7 linked regions of the Homo sapiens genome follow. The protein of the gene in region 6 interacts with the protein of the main gene of each other region in a biochemical or structural test. Each region holds a gene or a part of one and is shown on either strand. Other genes may lie near its edges. The genes, in order: CAND1, RCBTB2, PDCD6, CDC34, DCUN1D5, CUL3 and KBTBD13.

What was found.
Region 1: the proteins of CUL3 (region 6) and CAND1 form a complex in vitro, tested with the Homo sapiens proteins (one study listed by BioGRID).
Region 2: the proteins of CUL3 (region 6) and RCBTB2 form a complex in vitro, tested with the Homo sapiens proteins (one study listed by BioGRID).
Region 3: the proteins of CUL3 (region 6) and PDCD6 form a complex in vitro, tested with the Homo sapiens proteins (one study listed by BioGRID).
Region 4: the proteins of CUL3 (region 6) and CDC34 form a complex in vitro, tested with the Homo sapiens proteins (one study listed by BioGRID).
Region 5: the proteins of CUL3 (region 6) and DCUN1D5 form a complex in vitro, tested with the Homo sapiens proteins (2 studies listed by BioGRID, with this or other methods).
Region 7: the proteins of CUL3 (region 6) and KBTBD13 form a complex in vitro, tested with the Homo sapiens proteins (one study listed by IntAct).

Annotation. Positions count from the first base shown.
Region 1 is NC_000012.12:67,275,858-67,279,357, forward strand, and holds part of CAND1 (cullin-associated NEDD8-dissociated protein 1), read left to right. Parts: intron 1-3,500. UniProt on the Homo sapiens protein: Key assembly factor of SCF (SKP1-CUL1-F-box protein) E3 ubiquitin ligase complexes that promotes the exchange of the substrate-recognition F-box subunit in SCF complexes, thereby playing a key role in the cellular repertoire of SCF complexes.
Region 2 is NC_000013.11:48,495,081-48,498,580, forward strand, and holds part of RCBTB2 (RCC1 and BTB domain-containing protein 2), read right to left. Parts: intron 1,242-3,500; coding exon 1,111-1,241; intron 1-1,110.
Region 3 is NC_000005.10:312,560-315,474, forward strand, and holds the end of PDCD6 (programmed cell death protein 6), read left to right. Parts: intron 1-1,857; coding exon 1,858-1,956; 3' UTR 1,957-2,415; downstream 2,416-2,915. UniProt on the Homo sapiens protein: Calcium sensor that plays a key role in processes such as endoplasmic reticulum (ER)-Golgi vesicular transport, endosomal biogenesis or membrane repair.
Region 4 is NC_000019.10:534,760-538,259, forward strand, and holds part of CDC34 (ubiquitin-conjugating enzyme E2 R1), read left to right. Parts: intron 1-1,077; coding exon 1,078-1,164; intron 1,165-1,483; coding exon 1,484-1,581; intron 1,582-2,253; coding exon 2,254-2,388; intron 2,389-3,500. UniProt on the Homo sapiens protein: E2 ubiquitin-conjugating enzyme that accepts ubiquitin from an E1 ubiquitin-activating protein, and catalyzes its covalent attachment to other proteins by an E3 ubiquitin-protein ligase complex. In vitro catalyzes 'Lys-48'-linked polyubiquitination.
Region 5 is NC_000011.10:103,082,161-103,085,660, reverse strand, and holds part of DCUN1D5 (DCN1-like protein 5), read left to right. Parts: intron 1-2,334; coding exon 2,335-2,405; intron 2,406-2,821; coding exon 2,822-2,913; intron 2,914-3,500. UniProt on the Homo sapiens protein: Contributes to the neddylation of all cullins by transferring NEDD8 from N-terminally acetylated NEDD8-conjugating E2s enzyme to different cullin C-terminal domain-RBX complexes which is necessary for the activation of cullin-RING E3 ubiquitin ligases (CRLs).
Region 6 is NC_000002.12:224,508,864-224,512,363, reverse strand, and holds part of CUL3 (cullin-3), read left to right. Parts: intron 1-781; coding exon 782-1,010; intron 1,011-3,500. UniProt on the Homo sapiens protein: Core component of multiple cullin-RING-based BCR (BTB-CUL3-RBX1) E3 ubiquitin-protein ligase complexes which mediate the ubiquitination and subsequent proteasomal degradation of target proteins.
Region 7 is NC_000015.10:65,075,291-65,079,545, reverse strand, and holds the start of KBTBD13 (kelch repeat and BTB domain-containing protein 13), read right to left. Parts: upstream 2,801-4,255; 5' UTR 2,731-2,800; coding exon 1,354-2,730; 3' UTR 1-1,353. UniProt on the Homo sapiens protein: Substrate-specific adapter of a BCR (BTB-CUL3-RBX1) E3 ubiquitin ligase complex.

The sequences.
Region 1 (3,500 bases), on a different chromosome or scaffold from region 6:
AAAGGAATGAGATGGCACTGCCTACAGGTCATATCAACCTGGGAATTCCATTGAAGTCTGAAACGTAAACATTTATCTTTTTCTTTTCCCGTCTTAATGCCTTCTTTATCCTTATTTTGGCCTGTTAAATTACCATCCACTGAAAGTCACAAGCAGAAAATCTTTGATATCACCCTTCTCCCGTCTGTCTTCTTTAGTCTCCTGATGAGTATTTCTCAAATTAATCTTGCTGTCTCAGGCCTCTTCCTAACCCAGTTTGTTCCCTCTGGCCATTAGAATTTTCTTCCTATATACTGCAGCTGATCATTGCCTCCCTCACTAATTTCCATTGACTACAAGATAAACTCCAGATTTCTTAGCTGTTGCCCATCTGAATTCGTAGAGACTGCTCTCCTAAAATCCCCAACAGTCTCCCTAGTCTCCTAATATAACTCATTTAGTGGATATTTTCTTTGCTCATCTATTTGGTATATTTTTTTAAATCACTTTTTCCTTCTTGGAATTCTCTTATATGGGCATCCTGACACGAGTTGGGTTTTTGTCCGTAATAGTCAGGGAAAACACACACTTTAGGGTATCAGAGGATGTTAGAAGGAACCTATTCATTTGGGTAATTTGGGAAAGAGTCTAAGGAAGTGAAGCCTTGCTTTAGGTTGAGTGTTGTCAGAAAGTGAGGTCAATTCTATGATTCGGCCTCTTAATAAATTTTACAGGGAGGGCTGACCTAAGCAGGGGGAAAGCTGTAGTTGGTAAAGAAGTATCAGTCACTCATTTAACTGGAGAGGGGAATGTTTGGTATTTTGTATTGCTCAGGGACCTTGTCCGAAATGGATGTTCTGTGAGATTGTTTATGTCCAAGAAAACAATATGCCTTAGCTGTTAAGCATCAGATCGGTTAGTAATAACACTGAGGTTTAGTTATGAGTCTCAGATAAGTTTCTGGAATGTGGAGGCTGCTGTTTTTTTCTTTATCAGTGCCCACTTTTGGCCAAGGGTAGACAAAGTTGGGCTGCAGGACATTAATTTTTGATTTTCACATCTTCACTATGGCGGAGATTTTGTTAAGATCAGAGGAATATCCATTCCATGTAGTTTGCAGTTTAACCAAAGTTAATCCTTTCTTCTGTTGTAAGATGAGCAGTTTATTCATCTGATGTGACAATGGCTGCAGGGTAACATTAAGACTCTGGACAAGGATATGTTAGCTGACTGTATTACCCAGTCTTGTGGTTTTCCTTTTACTTCTTTCCTGCTAGCTCATCCTTACCATCCCTATATCTAATCCATTTTGAAGAACTATTAATTTTAGTTTGTAAAATTCAAACCAACTAGTTCTCATTATTTGTAGTATGTTTTGTAACATTATCACAAACACTGAGTTAGCAAGTACTGAACCATTGCTTCTGAGGGAATTATGGAATTAGTTTCTCTGAGTCCTGAGTCACATTATTTTAATCAGTTGATGAGTTTGTAACCTCGTTTTATGAGTGTTTCTTTTAAAGTTGTCTTAATATATATTGCTGATTTATTAACATTGAATTCACAGCCAATAAAGAAGCTTATCTAACACATATGTTTTTTTCAGAAGGCACATTATAGCCTTCTTGCACTTAGGAATGCTAGACAGCATTTCAGCACTGTGCTTGGAGGCCATATTAAACAACAAGAGCGCCAAGAAAAAGCACAAACATGTGAAAAACATGGGCTGAAATAGGCCAAGAAGAAGATGCTTGTTTACAACATGAGAGCTGGAGCTAGAAGGCAGAGTGTTGCTTTGTGCCACCACAGCTGGGAATGTATGTGTTGGATTACTCAAAATTTTCACCACTCGACACTCATCCAAATGACTGTGAAATAGGAAGCATTAATTTTGCTTTACAAATAAATGTTAATGAGTAGGTGAATTTGCAAATATGGAACCTGGGAATAATGAGAATCAACTGTATGTCATTTTTTTTTCCATCTTCATTGATTGCCATAACCTAAGTCAGGCCATCATAATTTCTAACTTAGTCATTCTCCTAACTAGTCTCCATTCAGTATGGCCAAATGAAGATTTGTTCTCTCCAAAGTATGGTCCACAGTATAGCTGGAGTAATGTTTCTGAAATGTAAATCTGATCATTGCATTTATTCCCCATCTGTAACCCAGTTGTTTTTCAGTAGCTTCCCACTCTCTTAGAATAAAGGCTAAAATCCTGATATGGTCTACAAATCCTTTAAATTCCTGGCCCTTGCTTACCTGGCACTAACTTCCTCCTGCTTCACCGTAATTTTGCCTACTCTTTATTTATTTTTGAGACAGAGTGTCACTCTTTTGCTCAGGCTGGGGTGCAGTGACGTGATCTTGACTCACTGCAACCTCCACTGCCCGGCTTCAAGCGACTGCCGCCCAGGTTCAAGCATTTCCCCTGCCTCAGCCTCCCAAATAGGTGGGATTACAGGCATGTACTACCATGCCTGGCTAATTTTGTATTTTTGGTAGAGACGGGGTTTCACCATGTTGTCCAGGCTGGTTTGGAACTCCTGACCTCCACCTGCCTAGGTCTCCCAAAGTGCTGGGATTACAGGTGTGAGCCACCATGCCCAGCTCCTACTCTTCAGATCAGTCTTTCCTGACACAACCCGCAGTTCAGTCTAGGTCATGTTACTTTGTTTATATGATAGTGCTTTCTTGTTTTGGGATGAATCTCACTCTGTCACCTAGGCTGTAGTGCAGTGGCTCAATCTCGGCTCACTGCAACCTCTGTGTCCCAGGTTCAAGCGATTCTCCTGCCTTAGCCTCCCAAGTAGGTGAGATTACAGGTGTACACCACCACACCCAGCTAATTTTTGTAATTTTAGTAGAGACAGGGTTTCACCATGTTGGCCAGGCTGGTGTCGAACTCCTGACCTCAGGAGATCTGCCTGCCTTGGCCTCCCAAAGTGCTGGGATTACAGGCGTGAGCCACTGGCACCTGGCCCCATAGTGTTTTCTTGATAACACTTTCCTTCATAGCATTTATCTTAGTTCTTAGTTCTACAGGTGCTTACTCATACATGCAATTTAAAAAGTTAATATGCCTTTTACTAGACTGCAATGTAAGCTCCAAGACAGCAAGAATTGTGTGTGCTTTGGTTAGCCCTTATATCAGCAAAAACTAGTACAGTACCTGATATGTAGTAGGTTCTTATTACACAGTGTATGAGTATATAACGCCATTCCCATTTTGACCTCAGCCTATATTCCCATCATCTTCCTATTAGGTTTCTGTGCTCCACATACTGAACTGTTTCCTTAGTCCTTCACTCTGAGGTGCTCTGTCCTTCCCCACCACCAAAAAAAAAAAAAAAAGTAATTTAAATTCCAAACCAATTTTTCCCATGCAAACCCCTGTTCATCCTTTGAGATCCAACCTAACAGTCAACTCTTGGGTGTGATAATTTCCATATGCTCTTGAGTAGTGTTTTATAAAATGTATTGAGATCTGTGCCCTTAGCACCATACCTAAAAGAGTAAAT
Region 2 (3,500 bases), on a different chromosome or scaffold from region 6:
ACTAAAATGTCTCTGTTTTCTTTGACCAAAGGAGAGGATATCCTTATACCAAAAGGAAACTGACTCGAAGATGTTACAGCCTGTTTCCTAAAGATTTGGTTCTAAGATTGGTTTTCTTTCCTTTCTTTATTATCATAACAATACATGGTCACTGTAAAAGTTAAAAAAAAATAAGCAAAGAGAAGAAAATAAAAATCACCCACAATCCCACCATTCAATGATAACCACTAAGCATAGTTTTCAGTCTTTTTTTCTATGTAGATAATGAATTTTAGTTTTTTATTCAGCTATTTATACTTTTTCAAAAAATAAAAATAGGATAAGTTTTTCACTTAGTGATATATCTTGAATAGCTGCATAATTTCTTGATATTAACATTTTATAAACAAGCCTCCACTATTCACACTAACCTTTTTCTGATTTTTCAAAATTATAAACTGCTGAAGTAAACACCTTTGAAGCTAAGTCTTTGTGCAAATCCATGATTAATTCCTCAAGATAAATACTTGTGAGTGAATTCCTTGAAGAATTATGTCTTTAATTTAAGGTGCTTAATACATATTATACCAAATTGTTCTCCATACCAATTTGTACTCTCATCAGCAGTTTAGGAGAACACCATTATTCTGATCCTATACATTATCTCTAAAAATATATTCCTGCTTTGACAGGTGAAAAGTTATACCTTGTTTTCATTTATGTTTTTTGTCTATTTATAGAGCCATTTGTTCTTTGGTCCATTTCTTTCAACCAAACTGTTCCTATTGTCTTTTTGTTTTTCACTCTGGTAAACAGACTTCATTATATGTTGCAAGTATTTTTCCCAGTGTCTCATTACTTTGTAAGTTTCTCTATGGTATTTTTAAGTGGATAAAAGTTTCTTATCTTTTTAAATCAGAGCTATAAATCCTTTATGGCTTCTGCCTTTGATGTCCATCCCAACATTATATAAATACTTGCTTATACGTTGTCTAGTACTCTTGTTACTTCATTTTTTAAAAAATATTAAATATTTCCTCTACCCAGACTTTCTTTTAGTTTAAGGTACGAGGCAGACACCTGGGTTCCATTTCTCCAGGAGGCCGGCAGCTGGAAGCAAGCTTTCCTTACCTGTGCATCATACTTCACCGCAGCCGAGAGCAGAGCGATGGCATTCTCCTCGCAGATGCCTTGCTTGATAGTTTGTTGGCAGAGCTTTTTCAAACGATTTTCTCTATAAAATGTAGCCAAGTCTAGCAGTCCTGGCGGAAAGAGGTGTTTATTAGGGGGAGTGATTTCAAGCATCCTGATTTACAGTTGCTCACTCAGCCACTCAGAGATGATTTTGACACTATTTTAGATATAATCCTCAGTGAAGCACTGCATAGACTGATGCTGACTGACACTTACACTTCAGTGTGGGGCTCTACCCAGGATGGCAGCCAAGCTGAGCAAACATGATACACAAATCATTAGCTGTTGAAAAACAGGAGCACAGGGAAAATAGCTTTAATATTTTTTTCCTAGGAAAAAAGCATGTGCGCCTTGAATGACCCCTTCCCCTGCAATCTCAATGTCAGCTTCTCCTGGGCCACTCCCAGGAGCACACACACATGCTGTAAGAGTGCCCGCCGTGAAAAGAAAGAAAAGAAAAGAAGAAAAGAAAACAAAAGAGAAGAAAAGAAGAGAGGACAGGAGAGGGAGGGGAGGGGAAGGGAGGGGAGAAGAGAAGAGGGGAGGGGAGAGGAGGGGAGGGGAGAGGAGGGGAGGGGAGAGGAGGAGAGGGGAGAGGAGGGGAGGGGAGACCCTTTCATGGACACGTGTCTTCCTCCTGTTACCCTATCCCACTGCTCCTCTCTACAGCAAAACTCCTAGACAGAGCTATCTGTATCTGCTGTCTCCATTTTCCCACCTCCCATTCTGACCTCAAGCCATTACAAGCAGAACCCCATCCCCACCACTACTGCAGTCACACCCTTGGTGGTCACACCTGTGGCAGTCACAGTGGCTTTGAGGGTGCAATATTCTCTGGTTTCCTCTTACTCGACATTTACACAGAATTTGATATGGTTGATAATGCTCTCCTTAGGACACTTTGTCACTTGCTTGCATTTTTCTTCTCTTTAATTAGTTGCTCCTCAGTTCTCTAGGCTGGATCATTTTTCCTGACTTCCAAATGTTTGAGTGCCCCAGGGTTAAATCCTCAGACACTTTCCTCACTTACTTCCCAAAACCCCAGCCCCAGGGTTTTAAATATCATCTATATATGCAGGTGAGTCCTGTTATATTACCTGTCACCTATTTTCAAGTAATTCAACGTAGACTGGGTGAGGTGACATATGTAAATTAATTTTAATCTACCCCAAGGAATGATAGGAAGTACTCTAATTGAAGCAGTCAATCAGCATCTGAAAGATCCTATTTGTTTTTCTGAATCTTCATTACAGGATTTGTAATTAGCATAAAGAATGTCAGAATTAGTTTGTCATTGCTGAAATGAGTGGTAGCCAGGATCAAAAGGCTAGCTGAATCCGGCTACTAGAACACTGTCATGTCCACCTCAAGCTAACTTTTCATGCAAGGTACTTAATAGAGTGTACGAAGTATAAAGAGCAGGGATTTCATCAATTTTACCATATTAATTGTTTTTGTGTCTATCTGCTAATAAATCTTATACATGTGGTAGACTTTGGTTGGAAACTTGCTTTTTTAATAACAAATATTATCAAAGTTATAGAGGAAAGACAGATAGCCCACTGGAGGACACTGAAATCTTGAGTTGTGAATGGCTTCATTGTTTTTGGCCCCAAGCTTCAGACACACATGCAAGCTGCACTGCCCTAAGAGAGGACTCTGCCCCAAGCCCCAGCTCTGCGCCTCCTCCACGCACACCTTCAGCACAGGGTGGCTAAGGAGCCACATGCCCACTTCTAGACCACACTTTGGGTACCTGGGAACCTGGGACTGCCTGCATAATTGGCCTTGAGGCCACATGTGTGGGTATTTCCTCCCTTAGACCCCACCACCAATGTGCAGACCCCCTGGCCCAAAAGGGTAACCTGGGTTGGGGGTGGATAGAGCTTGGAATGCAAGCTAGGGTGCCCACACACCCTTCTGCTGGAGGAGGGGTCTGTCCTGCCTGTGCCATTGGGTTCTGGCACAAGAAGTCCTGCAACTCTAAATGTCAACTAAAATTGAAACCTGTCCTTTCAGTTCTTAATGAAATTACATTTTTCAAGGTGGGAGGATTGGACATATTTTTATCTGAAGTTCACTAGCTTGACATATAACTTTAAGTTTTTAGACATATGGAACATAGGTCTCCATTTGGAGTCTTGGCTACAGCCCCACAAATGTTAGTGGTGGGCCGATAAAAAACTGCCACTCGCGGCCGGGCGCAGTGGCTCACGCCTGTAATCCCAGCACTTTGGGAGGCCAAGATGGGCGGATCACCTGAGGTCGGGAGTTCAAGACCAGCCTGACCAACACGGAGAAACCTCGTTTCTACTAAAAATACAAAA
Region 3 (2,915 bases), on a different chromosome or scaffold from region 6:
AAACTCTACGGTTGGGGACCCTTTCCTGCCCCTGCCTCTCGGGGTTCCTGCCAGGTTGGATGACATTTTTACAATGTTCTCTGAACACTTTCAAAAAAGTGTAGGCTGGGCCTGGTGTCGCATGCCTGTAGTCCCAGCTACTCAGGAGGCTGAGGCAGGAGAATCACTTGAACCCGGGAGGTGGAGGTTTCAGTGAGCCGAGATCACACCACTGCACTCCAGCCTGGGTGACAGAGCCAGACCCTGTCTTAAAAAAGAAAGAAAAGAAAAAGGGAAAAGATGCCGTGTAAAATCTCGTTCTGTGTCTGAATTGCCGTAGGGCTCAGATCTTCATTTGAGGTTCTGTGTCTGAATTGCCGTAGGGCTCAGATCTTCATTTGAGGTTATGTTCTATAAGTTAACGTTGATCTTGTGTGAGCTTTCGGTAGCTGGAGTAACACAGGCGGCCTCACAGCGACCTCTCCAGCGCCTTCCAAGGCACATCTGCAGCCAGCGTAGCTCCTCCTGGGAGATGCCTCCTCAAGGCCCTGCTCCAGACCACGTGGGGAGGGCCTGACAGCCAATTCCCAGGCTGTCCCCACCCTTGGAGAGTGACCCTAAACGCTAGACAGATGGGGAATGGGAAAGAAAAGAAAGCTGCAGACCTCAAGTTAAAATTCCCTCAAAAACGTTTTTATTTATCTGCTTTTTCTGAAAGGATAAAGGCTTTTTGAAAATTATTTTCTAACAAATAACATGAACACTTCTAGAAACCCTAGAAAAACACAAAGTATTCAAAATAGAAAGAAAAATTACCCATTACTCTTTAAGCCAGCATTATCCATTGCGGTGCTTTTGGAGTTGGGTGAGGCCGTAGCCTCTGCCAAGTCAAGGAGCCCGGTGGTGGCTGTGGCATTCCTGCAGGGTTGTTTTTTTTTCTTTGAGATGGAGTCTCACTCTTGTCACCCCAGCTGGAATGTGGTGGTGTAAACAGCTCACTGCAGCCTTGACCCTGAGGCTCAAGCGATCCTTCTGCCTTGGCCTCCTGAGTAGCTGGGATCCCAGGCGAGAGTCACCACACCCTGTCCATGTTCCTGCAGGTCTTGATGTGCGAGGACGCTGTGTCTTCCCTGCCACATTTTCTTCTTCTTTCTTGAGACAGACCCTTGCTCCATCACCCAGGCCAGAGTGTGGTGGTGCGAACACGGCTCACTGCAGCCTCGACCCTCAGGCTCAAGCGATCCTCACGCCTCGGACCCCCAAAGTGCTGGGATCACAGGCGAGAGTCACCATGCTGGCCTGAATCTTCAGGGTATTTTACGGTTGAAGTGTCACTTACTTAACCATCCCTGTTTCAGGAGTGTAGGTGGTCACCCTGTCTCTGCCGCTGACCTGGCCTGGACCCTCGGCTGTGAGAGGGAGGGGTGGGCTGGGCTGGAGGAACCTGAAGCCCTCGTGATGTCACAAGCCCATCTGGCTGGGCATCCCCTGCGCTGCACATGCCCCAGGTGGCCCCCACAGCAGAGGCGAGCCACTGGAGGGTGGAGGGCTTCCACGGGACGGTCTTCAGGGGGAGAAGGAAGGGCCCAGGCCCCCAGGAGACTCAGGAGACCAGAGCCTGGGGTCAGGGGCTCAGCCAGGGGCTCAGCCAGGGCTGGATGTCCGGAGCCAGCCCCGCAGCCCTGTGTTCTTCGTTCTTCGCACTCCCACCGTCCGTGTGAACAGCTCCAGCCCCACCTGCGCCTCCCTGTGCTGGGCTCCATCAGGGAGCCCAGAAGACGTGTGTGCTTCTGAAATTGGGTCCCTACATGCCTTTGTCCCAGTGCACCTTGCTCCTTCCATTTACTATCGAGATTTAAATGCCTGTTTTCTCCCCAGAGGTTGACGGATATATTCAGACGTTACGACACGGATCAGGACGGCTGGATTCAGGTGTCGTACGAACAGTACCTGTCCATGGTCTTCAGTATCGTATGACCCTGGCCTCTCGTGAAGAGCAGCACAACATGGAAAGAGCCAAAATGTCACAGTTCCTATCTGTGAGGGAATGGAGCACAGGTGCAGTTAGATGCTGTTCTTCCTTTAGATTTTGTCACGTGGGGACCCAGCTGTACATATGTGGATAAGCTGATTAATGGTTTTGCAACTGTAATAGTAGCTGTATCGTTCTAATGCAGACATTGGATTTGGTGACTGTCTCATTGTGCCATGAGGTAAATGTAATGTTTCAGGCATTCTGCTTGCAAAAAAATCTATCATGTGCTTTTCTAGATGTCTCTGGTTCTATAGTGCAAATGCTTTTATTAGCCAATAGGAATTTTAAAATAACATGGAACTTACACAAAAGGCTTTTCATGTGCCTTACTTTTTTAAAAAGGAGTTTATTGTATTCATTGGAATATGTGACGTAAGCAATAAAGGGAATGTTAGACGTGTGGTCTGCCTTCAGCTTTTCAAATCAAATAGGTCCAAGAACCAGGCCCCGTGCCCTGGTCCTCCAGACAGTCAGTGTCAGATGTTCTGGCTTGCCTGGGACCTCCCAGGGTACCGGGCACCTTCTGGAACATTGTCCAGCCCAGCGTGCACAGCTCTGCTTGTGAAAATCCAGAGGGACTGTCTCACCCTCTGTTCAGGAGGTTAAATTTCATAAGACTGCTCCTTTTGGATGAAGAAATCCAATTTGGTATAGCAGGTTGTGCATTTCCATCATTAATGATTTAGCCATGCTGTGCCCTGCAGTCTCTGCACGTGGCCTGCAGCGTTTGTCCACCCAGCGCATCCTGCTCACCTCGGTCCACTGCCAGCGCTGCCCGGTCCGCCTCCCTGCCTCACTGTGCAGCGCCGGCCCTCCTGGGTTGACACTCCCGAGGCCCAGCCTCATTCTCCAGACGCTTCCCTTCCACAGTGATGCGTCTGGTTTTGGGGCTGCAGCCTCT
Region 4 (3,500 bases), on a different chromosome or scaffold from region 6:
AAGACCCCCGAGTGCCCTCCCTGTCCAGACCTCGCCCATGATCCAAGACCCCCGAGTGCCCTCCCTGTCCAGACCTCGCCCACGATCCAAGACCCCCTGAGTGCCCTCCCTGTCCAGACCTCGCCCACGATCCAAGACCCCCTGAGTGCCCTCCCTGTCCAGGCTTCCACCACGATCGCTCTGGGGGTGCTGCTCTCGTGCCTTGGAGTGCTGAGTGCCACCAGGACCCCTGACCCAGACAACCTCTGTGTCTGGCACTGGGGCCCAGCAGGAAAACAGTGAGGCTTCCTTGTTTACCTGCTGTGGCCCAGGAGGGCCGTGGGTGGCATCACGCCCCAGGCTGCAGGCCAGACAGCTCTGTCACCTGGCACGTGGCTTCAGGCCTCCCTCTGTGGCCGTCCTTGCCAGCAGATCTGGACCTCCAGGGCCTGGGTGACCACAGGGGGCGATGCTGACAGGGAAGGAGTCCTGCCAGGTTTCTGTGACCTATGGGTCTGCCTGCCTGACCCCCCAAGACCGGACACCTGAGGGCAGACGGCCATACTGACTCATCCCCTCCCACGGCCTGGGCCAGGGCAGGTGTCACAAGTGTTTGCTAACTGAGCAATCATCTGTGCTAACCCTCCCCACACCCTGGCTGCCAAGGCCCTGGAGGTGCAGCCCTGGTCCTGGGCTTCAGCTCCATCCAAGGGGAGCCTGGAGCCCCTGCCAGTCCATTCTGTCTGCTGGTGGGTGCCCCTGGCCTGGGTCCCATATGCCTGACCTGGGCTGCCACGGGCCTGGAGCCACGCGGGCAGCCAGTGCCCACGTTCCCCAGCAGTTGTGCTGGGCCGGGTCCCGGCCACCTGGACTGTGTAGGAGCTGGGATCAGCTCGGGTGACTCAGAAAAGGCTTCAGGCAGCCTTCTGGGGACTTGACCCCAGGCCTGTGAGAGTCCCTGCCTTGGGCAGGATACGGTGTCCCTCACACACACCCTCAGGCACCAGCACTGGGAGTGGGATGGCCTTGGGCACCTTGTGAGCTGGGGCAGGTCTTGGGGCTGGGCTGGACTGAGCCACCTGCCTTCTGCCCCTGCAGGCGCGCCTCAAGTTCCCCATCGACTACCCATACTCTCCACCAGCCTTTCGGTTCCTGACCAAGATGTGGCACCCTAACATCTACGAGGTGAGCGCGGCCCCCACGGGCCTCAAGTCCTCATCCTCCGGGACCCAGGGTGCTGGGAGCCTCACGTCCTCATCCTTCCGGGACCCGGGGCGCTGGGAGCCTCACGTCCTCGTCCTCCGGGACCCGGGGCGCTGGGAGCCTCACGTCCTCGTCCTTCCGGGACCCGAGGCGCTGGGAGCCTCATGTCCTCGTCCTTCCGGGACCCGGGGCGCTGGGAGCCTCACGTCCTCGTCCTCCACGTCCTCATCCTCCGGGACCTGGGGCACTGGGAGCCCGTGCTGACCTCTGACCTGTTCTGACCTGTCTTCTTCTTGTGCAGACGGGGGACGTGTGTATCTCCATCCTCCACCCGCCGGTGGACGACCCCCAGAGCGGGGAGCTGCCCTCAGAGAGGTGGAACCCCACGCAGAACGTCAGGTAAGCCGGCCCAACCCCCTGTGTCCACCCAGAACATCAGGTAGGCCGGGCTCCGTCCCGTATCCACCCAGACCATCAGGTAGGCCGGGCTCCCCCACAGGCTGTGGCGCCAAGGCCTGATTCGGGACCTGCCAGCTGGCGGTCCTGGGCCTCGCTGTACCTGCACGGTAGGTGCTTTCACGGGGCCTGCGGCACCGTGTGTCGGTGCAGACTCCCACCAGGACCCCAGGCCGGCCCCACCGTCTGGAACCACCTAGAGGTGTCCCGCCATCCTCAGTCCTGGGGCCTTCTCCTTACCCAGCCGTCTCTGGGTTGGTCACCTCGTGCCACGTGTGCCGCCTGGGCCTCGTCCCCAGGTACAAGCACTGGGCCGTGTTGCCCGTGTGTCCTGGAGTGTAGTCTAGGCAGGACGTGCGGGTGTGAGGGCAGCCCCGGGTCTGACGGAGGGGTCTGCACCTTGCTGCCCTCCCTGGTCTTGGCGTGGGAGGGAGGAGACTGATGCAGGTCCAGCCCCTGCTGTTCTGGGGGCCTGAGACAGAAGCAGAGGCCATGAGGCCAGGTGAAGGTCACCTGCTGGGTGGGTCCAGGCGTCCCCGTGACCCTCAGGGCCAGAGAAGAGCCGGAAGGCTGGGGTGCCCCGGGCCGCCCCACTCCGACCCACTCTCCCCACAGGACCATTCTCCTGAGTGTGATCTCCCTCCTGAACGAGCCCAACACCTTCTCGCCCGCAAACGTGGACGCCTCCGTGATGTACAGGAAGTGGAAAGAGAGCAAGGGGAAGGATCGGGAGTACACAGACATCATCCGGTGAGGGCGGGCGGGGGCGTCACGGGAGGAGAGACTCAGATCCGGCCTGCACCCCGGCCCCTGGTCCCACGGCCGCCCAGCCCCACCTTCCTGGTGAGGGTGGCGGAGCTTCCTGGTGCCCATTTACAGGGTGCCAGTCACAGATGGAGGCCGGGCCGAGTGGCGGAGGGTCCAGCCAGGTTCAAGCCCAGCTTCTTGCCCCTTTTCCTCTTTTTTTTTGTTTGAGACAGAGTCTCTCTCTGTCACCCAGGCTGGAGTGCAGTGGCGCGATCTCGGCTCACTGCAAGCTCCGCCTCCCGGGTTCACGCCATTCTCCTGCCTCAGCCTCCCAAGTAGCTGGGACTACAGGCGCCCGTCACCACGCCCGGCTAATTTTTTGTATTTTTAGTAGAGACGGGGTTTCAGCGTGTTAGCCAGGATGGTCTCGATCTCCTGACCTCGTGATCCATCTGCCTCGGCCTCCCAAAGTGCAGGGATTACAGGCGTGAGCCACCGCGGCCGGCCTTTTTTTTTTTTTTTTTTTTTGGAGACAGAGTTATACTCTCTTGCCTAGGCTGCAGTGCAGTGGTGCGATCTCGGCTCACTGCAGCCTCCACTACTCGGGTTGGAGCAGTTCTCCCCCTTCATCCTGCCAAGCAGCTGGGATTACAGGTGCCCACTACCACGCCGAGCTAATTTTTGTAATTTTTAGTAGAGGTGGGATTTCACCATCTTAGCCAGGCTGGTCTCAAACTCCTGACCTCAGGTGATCCACCCGCCTCGGCCTCCCAAAGTGCTGGGATGACAGGCGTGAGCCACTGCACCTGGCCTGGTGGTTAGTGTTTTCATAGATTCTTCCAGGCTTTTCAGTTTAACGCATGTCTGTGCTTTAATGAAGAAATGGGGTCGTGCTGTGTGTGCCCAGTGACTGACTGTTAGGGAACATGTGTCTGTGCCTTAATGAAGAAATGGGGTCGTGCTGTGTGTGCCCAGTGACTGACTGTTAGGGAACATGTGTCTGTGCTTTAATGAAAAAATGGGGTCGTGCTGTGTGTGCCCAGTGACTGACTGTTAGTCAGGGGTGTTGGCCTTACTCATGTCTGGAGTGCGTCCCTGCAGGCTCTTGGCCTGGT
Region 5 (3,500 bases), on a different chromosome or scaffold from region 6:
ACATTAGTTACAGACCTCGCTTTAGACTTAGATCTGTTACTATTTACATCACTTTGGCAAAGTCAGTTAACATTTACAGACCTTATCTAAGTTATAAGGTATTATATCTCTATGTAATCTCATTTGACTTGCTTCTAACCAAATTTTAATTAGTAATCACCAAGTAATCCTCCAGTTTCTAGGGGGGCTATACTGATATTTCTTTTTTATTTTTTATATTTTTTGAGACAGAGTCTCGCTCTGTCACCTACGCTGGAGTGCAGTGGCGCAATCTCGGCTCACTGCAACCTCTGCCACCTAGGTTAAGTGATTCTCCTGCCTCAGCCTCCTGCGTAGCTGGGATTACAGGCACCTGCCACCACGTCTGGCTAATTTTTGTAGTTTTAGTAGAGACAGGGTTTCACCATCTTGGCCAGGCTGGTCTTGAAATCCTGACCTCGTAATCCATCTGCCTCGGCCTCCCAAAGTGCTGAGATTACAGGCGTGAGCCACTGCTCCTAGCTTATGCTGATGTTTCTAGACATCCTCTAAAGCTTTCTCTTTGAATCACTAATGGCAACTTTGAGAGCAAGTATGTTTTCTTGATGCTTTAGAAAAATTTACAATATATTTACATCGTGGCTTTTAAAAAAACCGTTTGTCTTTTCCCTTAATTTTTTATTTTTTATTTTTTTTTGAGACAGGGCCTTGCTCTCTCCCAGGCTGGAGTACAATGGCGTGATCATGGCTCATTGCAGCCTCAAACTCCTGGGCTCAAGCAATGCTCCCACCTCAGTCTCCTGAGTAGCTGGGACCACAGACTGGCACCACCACACAAGGCTATTTTTTTTTTCCCTAGAGATGGGGTCTCCCTGTGTTGTGCAGGTTTGTCTGGAACTCTTGGGCTCAAGTGATAATCCCACCTCGGCCTCCCAAAGTGCCAAGATTACAGGCATGAGCCACCGCGCCTGGGCCTCTTAAATTTTCAAATCTGATTTTTGTTTTCTTTCAATCATATATAAGAATACATACTCATTTATGCATTTTAACACCTTTATTGTATATGTATGCCTTTTAAGTTATAAAATTAACACATTCTCATTTAAACAATTCTCCAAATATGTAAAGGAAGAGAAAGTGCCCTATAATTAATCACCCCCTTCACCTTTTAACACGAGTGCATTGTTAGTACTTATTTAAACCTAATAACACTTAACATGTTACACAAAAAAATTAAAAAGGGTTTTGGCTTCAGACCAGTATTAATGTCATCTTAGCAGCTTGGATCTCAGGCAGCAAGAATGTATTGACTTTATGTTGTGCTAGTAACCTAAATATGGTGCTGTCAAATTTACCTGAGCAGCCTTGGTCTAGTCTATGGTTTATAAAGCTGGAGGATTTTCATCCTTGAAAAAGGAAAATAGAGGCTTCTCTTGACTCTTAAGAATAATATCTCAAGATTATATTTTCAAAATCCCATAGTGGTAAACACATTTCTCATATTATTACAAAATTTGTTTTATTCTTATCCAGTCACAAAAGAGACCTAGTGATGATGTAATTACTATATTTTGGGAATCTGATAACATTTTGAAAAAATGATAATTGATGTATTGATTTATTAATGTTGCTAAGGGTGTAAAATAAGGAACAAGTTAAATGCCAGTAATTAATTTTTGGATGAATGATAGACACTAACTAATTGAAAGATTAAACTTCTGTTTCTACATTAAGGTGACATCAATGCTTGCTGTCTGTTTTAGAACCAAGATGATAAGGAAAATAGCTCTTTCTGGAAATGGAATGTAGTAATTTCCATAAGTCATTATTTTCAAAATACCTTTGTCTTTTTCAATAATTAAATTATATTTGAGTGTATTTCAAAAGGGTAATAAATGGCCTGTTTTATAGGTAAATATATTCCCCTTCTGATTACTGTATTGAACTTTGTGTTGGTTCTGATATTCCAGTAGATTAAGAAGCTCCAGCTGCCTTATGTTTTTTCATATTCATGCATTGTCAAAAATTTTATTCAGAGTAGGCTCTCAGTGAATTTTTTTTTTAATGGATTGGTTTGAGTTTTTGTACTAACTTGTGATTGATACTAATGGAGTATTTCTTTGCTGCTTTTTAAATTTTCTTAATTTCATATTGTAATCTGGTGTTCAAAGAATACTTCACAAATTTTAAATTTTAAATCCTGTAGCAAATATTTATACTTATCAAAGCTATGCCAAAATTCAAATTTAATTATTTGCAAAATATTATGGTGTGTTCATGGGTACCTTTAGCATGACGATTTATGTTTTATGTTGATATTATAACAAAATATGTTAATTATTTTTGTCTTTGAAGGTCCTGATGAAGTTGTAGGGCCAGAAGGAATGGAAAAATTTTGTGAAGACATTGGTGTTGAACCTGAAAATGTATGTTTTATTTCTAAGTAGAATGGCATATAAGTGGGGTATAGCATATTCGTAAATTACTAAAAATCGAGACACTTTAATCTTGTATGAAGATTTTATTTCTTCATGTTTAATATTGTAAATTTGCATTTAAGGTATTTTTAATCAGTTTAAGTTGGGCAAATGTATTCTTTCTTGATACAAATGTTATATGTAATAGAATAAGAGATTCTACCTTCAGAAACTGTTAGAACTTTTTACTTTTAAGAAATTGGCACATCTCAATTTCTTTGTATATAGTTAATAATTCCAGAGGTTGTACTCTTTAATAGTTGAAGGATGGAAGTAGTTGTGTAAAAATGCTCTCCATGATAAATATAGACATGATTATCTCTATGCTGACTTTTCCCCTATCCTTTATGTTCTGTTCTTTCCAGATTATTATGTTAGTTTTAGCGTGGAAATTGGAGGCTGAAAGCATGGGATTTTTTACCAAGGAAGAATGGTTAAAGGGAATGACTTCATTACAGTAAGAAATTTTTTTAAAAAACAAATTTGATGGCCTATTTGAAGATCTTAATTGATATTTTGTGCTTCATAATTTTCAGGAGTAAGGTTTCACCTTAAATCAAATCTGTTTGATCTATAACAATTAGTTTGGGGATTGAAAAAATTATATTGTGGTCTTGGGCAAATATATAGGTACCCCATGTTTTATATTCTCTAAGAAAGAACCTTAGTACAGTCCTATTAAAATTCCTTGATTCTCTTGGTGAGTGACTTAAAAGTCTATGATCAAAGACCTATTTATTTACAGGTTGTTTGAGTATAAGGATTTTCCTCTCTCAATACAGAATTCTACTATCGAAGGAGTATGTTCGTTGGGCAGCCCTAAGCTCTAGGGCCTCCTCTCCCTTCTTCACTTTAATATTTGACTTTAAAAATTTGAAGATAGAGTTACATAACCCTTTTATGATTTCTTTATTGCCAAGTGAATTTCATAAAGGACAAAAGTAGAAATGTTGTAACTGCTCCCGTGCAATCTTTACCCATTTTATAGTCCTACACTTTCAGTTTAGGATCCTGTCTTTGAACATTTTCATAAGTTATAGAATT
Region 6 (3,500 bases):
AGCACTTTGGGAGGCTGAGACGAGTGGATCACTATATCAGGAGATTGAGACCATCCTGGCTAACACGGTGAAACCCCATTTCTACTAAAAATACAAAAAAATTAGCCGGGCGTGGTGGCGGGCGCCTGTAGTCCCAGCTACTCGGGAGGCTGAGGCAGGAGAATGGTGTGGACCCGGGAGGTGGAGCTTGCAGTGAGCTGAGATCGCGCCACTGCACTCTAGCCTGGGTGACAGAGCGAGACTCTGTCTCAAAAAAAAAAAGAAAAAAAAGATGAATAGTTATTTAAAAGCTCTTATTTTCAAACTTTAGTGTACATGTTTACTCTTTGAGACTGGGAGTGGGATGGCACTGGAAGACTTAATTAACCAGCAGTATGCCAGCAAAGCTTATGATAAACATGATGAATCTTTCTGGTTATAATTTTACATTAAAACAAATCAAAAAAGAATGTCCCACTGTATCTTGGAGTCAGATGCTTCTAAGCTTTTGACCCTCACTGGCGTGTATATACTTGTTCTGCTATTTTTTGGAGTACATTGGCACAGTTTGAAAAACATTGCTTACAGATAATGTTTTAATTTAGTATTATGTAAATACCAAAGGCTTTAAAGGATATAATTCAGACTATATCAGTCTTTCGTGTAATGAGAAATTACACAAAATGCTAATAGTACTTATTTTATTTAGGCTGATTTATTATAAACACTGTAGAAACCCAGCTAAAAGCAAAAACACTCTTTTCTTCTATGTTTAAAAAATATATATATTTTTAAATGGCAGATGGAAAGCCAGAAATTTTTAGCAGAAAATAGTGCTTCAGTATATATAAAGAAAGTAGAAGCTAGAATTAATGAAGAAATAGAACGAGTGATGCACTGCCTTGACAAATCAACGGAAGAACCAATTGTAAAGGTGGTTGAAAGGGAACTCATTTCCAAGCACATGAAGACTATAGTAGAAATGGAGAATTCTGGGCTAGTACATATGTTGAAAAATGGAAAGACAGAAGGTAAGTGTTACCGATTGAAAAATAATTAAATCCTTACTCTGCCTTATCGATATTTTTAAAATTTTCCTACAATTAAAGCAGATAATATCAGCTTTCAAGAAGTTTTGGTGTGTATTGTTAATTTGTCTCCATTGTTAACTTTAATGGGATTTCCAAGCTTGATTCTGTCTTACTAACGAAGATTTTAGATATTTCTAATGAATTGAGCATTTCCTGTCTTTAAGTCTCATTTTACATTTAATCCAGAAGATAAAAGGTGTAATAGTATTGGTGAGCCCAGTGAGCTCCTCATTCATTCCTGTACTTCCTGTATACCAAAGGGTGTGGGCTCTCTTTAGTCCTACATACTCTCTTGGGGTTTTGTGATTCTCTTAAAACCTTAAGTTTCCACCTTAAGATTTTTGTAGACTTTCCTTTGGGATTTAGTTGTGACAGGGTGCTGAAAATGCAAAAATATTTGTGTCTTCCATATTGACATACTTAGATAAATTAGATTGGTTTGGGGAACACTGAAGTTACAGAATGGAAAAGGAGGAAGGAGGAGTGCATAAAAGTAAAGAACATTTTTGAGATAACTAACATTTGTTTTTTATAGCTATTTATTTTCCTGGGGTAAAAGAAAAATTGTGACAAGTATCCTAGAAGAAATTACAAGTTAAAAGAACAATAACCATATCCTCTATTCTTAGTTTCTGATGCTTTGTTTTAAAACTTTGCCTTTACCACTTATATGGTATTAGGAAATAAAAAACATGGTACTTTGTTCTCCTGCTTCCTAGACGAAATCTAAGCAATATTTTATCCACTTCTTTTTAGTAAAAGAAATACATATTGCCTGTTGGGGTCATGAGCTATGTAGGGAATGAAAAAATTTTTTAAAGGAGAATTATAAAGAGAAGGAGGATACAAGAGAAAGGAAAACGAAAGCTGGTGGGAAGTTGAGCCATGTTTATCTCTAGTGGAATCCTTACCTTGTGTTTTAAAATTGTTAAATGTTTGTATATATGAGAAATCCCTGAAAAGTTATATGTAATTTAAAAAAACAAAAAAAAAACAAAAAAAACTAGAGAGGCTTCCTTTTTAAAAGACTCTTCAGTTAAACCTTTTTTGTAAAAGCCAAAAAAAAAAAAAAAACAGAAGTCATCTAGTATATTTGCTGTGTTTTCTAAAATTGAGGTCCAAGTCAGGGGTTGGCAAGCTTTTTTGTTGTTGAATAAAATGGCTTGTGAGCCACGCAGTCATAGTGAGAAAATAGTCCTAGACAATAACAAATGAATAATCCTGTGTTTCTATAAGACTTTATTTATGGGCCCTGAAACTTGAATTTCATATAATTTTTATGTGTCACTAAATAGCATTCTTTACAGTTTTTCCTCAGCCATTAAAAATGTGAAAACCATCCTTAGTTCATGAGCTGTACATAAATAGATGGCAGGCTGTATTTGCCCCACGGGTTCTAATTCGATGACCCTTCTCTAAGTGGTCTCTGGTAGACTGGGACTTTATGCAAAGCATTTGCCCTGCTTAAACAAAATGAGTATTGATAAATTATGTAATGTACTGTTTAGGTATTGAATGAATGCTTTCTTACCTACCTTAGGGGATAGGAAATGTTTGATGGAGAGGTTGTTGGGCATACCTGAATTACAGCATCTCTGTAACCTGTGTGGAGATGTATGTAAAAGGTGTCAGGTATGCCTATCATGGCGAGCACTTACGTGAATGAAGGAATACCATAATAGTACTCACCAGAGTTCTCCTTTATTTAGTACCTTAGGTTTCCAACAACACAGTAGCTATCTGTGATTCTAAATTAAATTTTAAAATCCTGCTTTTGTCCAGGCAGGGTGGCAAACGCCTGTAATCTCAGTATTTTTGGGAGGCTGAAGCAGGTGGATCGCTTGAGCTCAGGAGTTTAAGACCAACCTGGGCAAATTGGTGAAACCCTGTCTCTATGAAAAATACAAAAATTAGCTGGGCATGATGGCACATGCCTAGTCCCAGCCACTTGGGAGGTTGAGGTGAGAGGATCATTTGAATCTGGCTGGGGAGGTCAAGGCTGCAGTGAACCAAGATGATGCCACTGCACTCCAGCCTGGGCTACAGAGGGAGATCCTGTCTTAAGAAAAAAAAGGTGGGGGGGTTAATTTTTCTGAGCTTCCGCTAGAAACCTGGTGGCAAAATATCCTAATTGTGGTAGGCCCTGCTCTTGGAAAAAATGTTGCTCTTGTTGAGAATATAGCAGAGCCAACTTCACCATTATGAAGCCAAATTCTCATAAATCAGAAAATGAAAAACAGTTTTCTCACTGTGAATGGAGGATAAATTGGATTGATTATTAGATGCAGATAGCACTATGAAATGAAGTTCAGAGGTATCTTTTTTTTTTTTTGAGACGAAGTCTTGCTCTGTCGCCCAGGCTGGAGTGCAGTGGTGGGATCTCAGCTCACTGCAAGCTCTGCCTCCCAGGTTCATGCCATTCTCCTGCCT
Region 7 (4,255 bases), on a different chromosome or scaffold from region 6:
CTCTGTAGCCTGGGTTCTTTCAAGGCATCATCATTTTAATCTGGGACAGGGAAGTCCCCCAGCTCACTTAACAGGATCTCTGCCCTTACAATCCACACACGTGGTTGTGCACACACAATGATGTTACAGCCAGGGGTCCAATGAGCAATGCAGGCAGCCCAGGTCAGGAAAACGAAGAGCTGGGTGAGCCAATGCTGCACAGAGGATGGTAGAGCACTGACAGGGAGAGAGGAGGAGACTAGGCATTCCAGCCCAGGGAATTGCAAAGGGCAGAATAGGACAGGAAGAGAACAAACCTGTAGAATGTGGAGGAGGGGCTACAACTGAGGAAGATGAGGCAGGATTTGGCTCATACCTCAACTGACCTGAAGTCATGTGGGTTAACAGTCCACTGCCCCGTGGTGATGGCAAAAACAGGGTGGGCAAGGGCTTACACCTGGGTGCTCCCCTAAGGGTTCCAAAAAGGAACGTGAAGAATCCTCTCGCCCCCACAGGTCTCACTCCAGGCTCAGCTCAGTCATTATCTGCTGCAAGCTGGCCCAGTCTCATCCCCTCTCTAGATGCCCCAACTACTGCTGCTCTGCTGGTATGGCTGGACTTGCAGAGACCCTCCCCATCTGCTCCAGCCTTCCCCAACCCTGCTTCTCTTCTGAGCTCTCAGCCTCCATGGTCTAAGCCTCCCCTTTCAGCAGCTAATGGTATCCTGCTCATCTCCTCCATAGAGTTTGCACACTCTCTTCTTTTCTGGAGTTATATATTTTTTCTCTTCCTATTTTCCCTTTGCCCTGATTTCTTCAGCACTTTATTTTATTATATTGTATGCGGTTTTAAATTTTTTTGCATGTTGCCTTCAACTCTGTGGATCAAGTTGTGTGTAAACCTTTTTGTTGTCCTGTAACTGTTAAGATTGTTTTCTGGGTTATCCTTTAAGCTTCCTGGATCCCTGTGTGGCAACTACGGCTCTCATTACGCATAACACTGTATTGGGCATACAGTAGGTGCCTAATTCTTGCCTACTACTTGCAGTTTGATTAACATCATTTAAGTCGCTCCCAGCGATGCTCAATCACTAGCCCATTACATATAAGCCCGGATTATTCAAATCCCAACTCCCCCTACCCTGTTCACTGACATTGTGACCCACCAGCTCTCAGCAGAGCCCAAGTAATTTGAGGGCATCATCACTGCTCCCTGAGCTTCTTGAACATGTCCACACCACCAGAAGGCACCAAACCTGGGTGTCTCAGTAGAAAGAGGGAAGTTGCCAGCTACTTCTAAGGCCGGCCTCACACACTCAGCCATAGCTCAGGGAGGAGTCGCGGCGTCTCCTCCCTCCTAAAGCCAGCCCAGAGGTCACAGTTCTGCCGTTGTCGAAGTCACAGGCCCAGGAGCGCCAGGAGGCAGCCTTAGGAGAAAGGTCTGCAAGGAGCCGGGCCGCGGGAAGCCGGCTTTCTCCCTGAGCAGCCGCCAGGTGCCGCCCTCGATGGCGTAGAGCAGCGTGAACATGCGGTTGACCGTATAGACGGTGTCACCGCGCACCACGGCCGTGAAGAGCGCTCCCTTGCTGTTGACGAACTGGCCGGGCAGCGCCGTCCACTGGCCCGTGGCCAGGTTGAGACAGTCGATGGCGCAGTGCAGGAAGTCGTCGGAAGGTCCGTTGCGCACCACATAGAGGCTGTCGCGGTGGGCCACCATGCAGTGGCCATAGCTCTGCGGACGCCGCAGCTCGGCCACTGGCAGCCACGCGTCGGTCCGCACTGCGTACTCCACCACGGCGGTGGTGTCGGCCGGCCGCCACAGGCACACGAAGAGACGGCCACAAGCCTGGGCGCAGGGCACGCCGGCGGCCGGCTGCGGCAGGTCGGCCACGAAACTCCAGCAGCCCGCGGCTGGGTCGTAGCGCTCCACGGAGCTGATGGGCGTCCTCTGGAATTCGCCGCCGATGGCGTAGAGGCGGCCGTCGAAGCCGGCCAGCGCTGTGTCATAGCGCGGCTGGTGCGGGCTGGGGAACTCGTGCCACGTGCCGCCGTCGGGGTCGTAGCAGAAGCCCAGCTCTACCACCTCCTTGCTGGCGCCGCGCACGCCCCCCACGATGTAAAGCTTGTTGCCCAGCGTGGCCACCCCGGCCAGCAACGTGCTGGCCTCCAGGGGCAGCGCAGCCAGCGTGCGCCACGCGTCCTCTTCCTCGTCCAGGTAACACAGCGTGCGCGAGGCGTCCTCCAGGAAGCCGGGCGCGGGCGTGTGCGTGCTCACGGCCGCGTAGCTGCTGGGCCGCAGGGCCGCCACGTAGGCGCGGGCCTCAGGCAGCGCCAGTTCGGCCGCCAGCTCGCGCTCGCCGTCGCAGATGAAGAGCGCGGCACTGTGGAACACGTCGCGCAGGCCGAAGGCGGCGGCCGCGTCGCACAGCAATGCGCAGTTGTCCGACGTGAGGTTGTGCTCCAGAAAGCGAGCCAGCGCCGGCGCCTGGAGGAAGGCGGCGCACTCCACGGCCTGCAGCAGCTCGTCCTCCGCCGCCAGCGCCGGCCGGTCGCCGCGCAGCACCTGCAGCGTGGCGCGGAAACCTCCCGCGCTCAGAACGCCCAGGCGCACCTCTGCTGCGCGGGTCTCCCGCATGCCGGAGCGGAAGAGGCCTCGGAAGAAGCCACAGTGCTCCACCAGCAGGGCGCGGTCGGCTTGGAAGAGCTGGCCGCCCACCCACACCTGCACCAGGGTCTGTGGACCCCGTGCCATGGCGAGCTGGCCGGGCGGAGGCTGCCGCTGGGGCCTTGGGTTAGCCAGCCACCAACTCTGGGGCTCCCCTGGAGCAAAAAACTTCCCTGGGGGCTATAAATATCTCTCCCTGGCTAAAGATAGTATGGCTCATGTGATGTGGTGGCCCGCAGGCTGTATGGCTGCAGGCCCGGAGGGCATCTGGAGACCTGTGTGATCACTCATATCCTTAGAAGAAATGGTAATAATGGGTCCAGAATTGGTGGGTTCTTGGTCTGACTTCAAGAATGAAGCCGCGGACCCTCGAGGTGAGTGTTACAGCTCTTAAGGTAGCGTGTCTGGAGTCTGTCCTTTCTGATGTTCAGATGTGTTTGGAGTTTCTTCCTTCTGGTGGGTTCATGGTCTCGCTGGCTCAGGAGTGAAGCTGCAGACCTTCGCTGTGAGTGTTACAGCTCTTAAGGCAGCGTGTCTGGAGTTGTTCGTTCCTCCCAGTGGGCTTGTGGTCTCGCTGGCCTCAGGAGTGAAGCTGCAGACTTTCACGGTGAGTGTTACAGCTCATAAAAGCAGTGTGGACCCAAAAGAGTGAGCAGCAGCAAGATTTATTGCAAAGAGGAAAAGAATAAAGCGTCCACAGTGTGGAAGGGGATATGAGCGGGTTGCCACTGCTGGCTCGGGTAGCCTGCGTTTATTCTCTTATCTGGCCCCACTCACATCCTGCTGATTGGTAGAGCCAAGTGGCCTGTTTTGACAGGGCGCTGATTGGTGGGTTTACAATCCCTGAGCTAGATACAAAAGTTCTCCACGTCCCCATCAGATTAGTTAGATACAGAGTTTCCACATACAGGTTCTCCAAGGCCCCACCAGAGCAGCTAGATACAGAGTGTCGACTGGTGCACTCACAAACCTTGAACTAAACTCAGGGTGCTGATTGGTGTGTTTACAAACCTTGAGCTAGATACAGAGTGCCGATTGGTGTATTTACAATCCCTGAGCTAGACATAAAGGTTTTCCAAGGCCCCACCAGAGCAGCTAGATACAGAGTGTTGATTGGTGCACTCACAAACCCTGAGCTAGACACAGGGTGCTGATTGGTGTGTTTACAAACCTTGAGCTAGATACAGAGTGCCAATTGGTGTATTTACAATCCCTGAGCTAGACATAAAGGTTCTCCAGGGCCCCACCAGAGCAGCTAGATACAGAGTGTCAATTGGTGCACTCACAAACCCTGAGCTAGACACAGGGTGCTGATTAGTGTGTTTACAAACCTTGAGCTAGATACAGAGTGCCGATTGGTGTATTCACAATCCCTGAGCTAGACATAAAGACTCTCCACGTCCCCACCAGACTCAGGAGCCCAGCTGGCTTCACCTAGTGGATCCTGCACCAGGGCTGCAGGTGGAGTTGCCTGCCAGTCCTGCACCATGCGCTCGCATTCCTCAGCCCTTGGGTGGTTGATGGGACTGGGCACCGTGGAGCAGGGGGTAGTGCTCGTCGGGGAGGCTCGGGCCGCACAGGAGCCCATGGAGTGGATGGGAGGCTCAGGCAT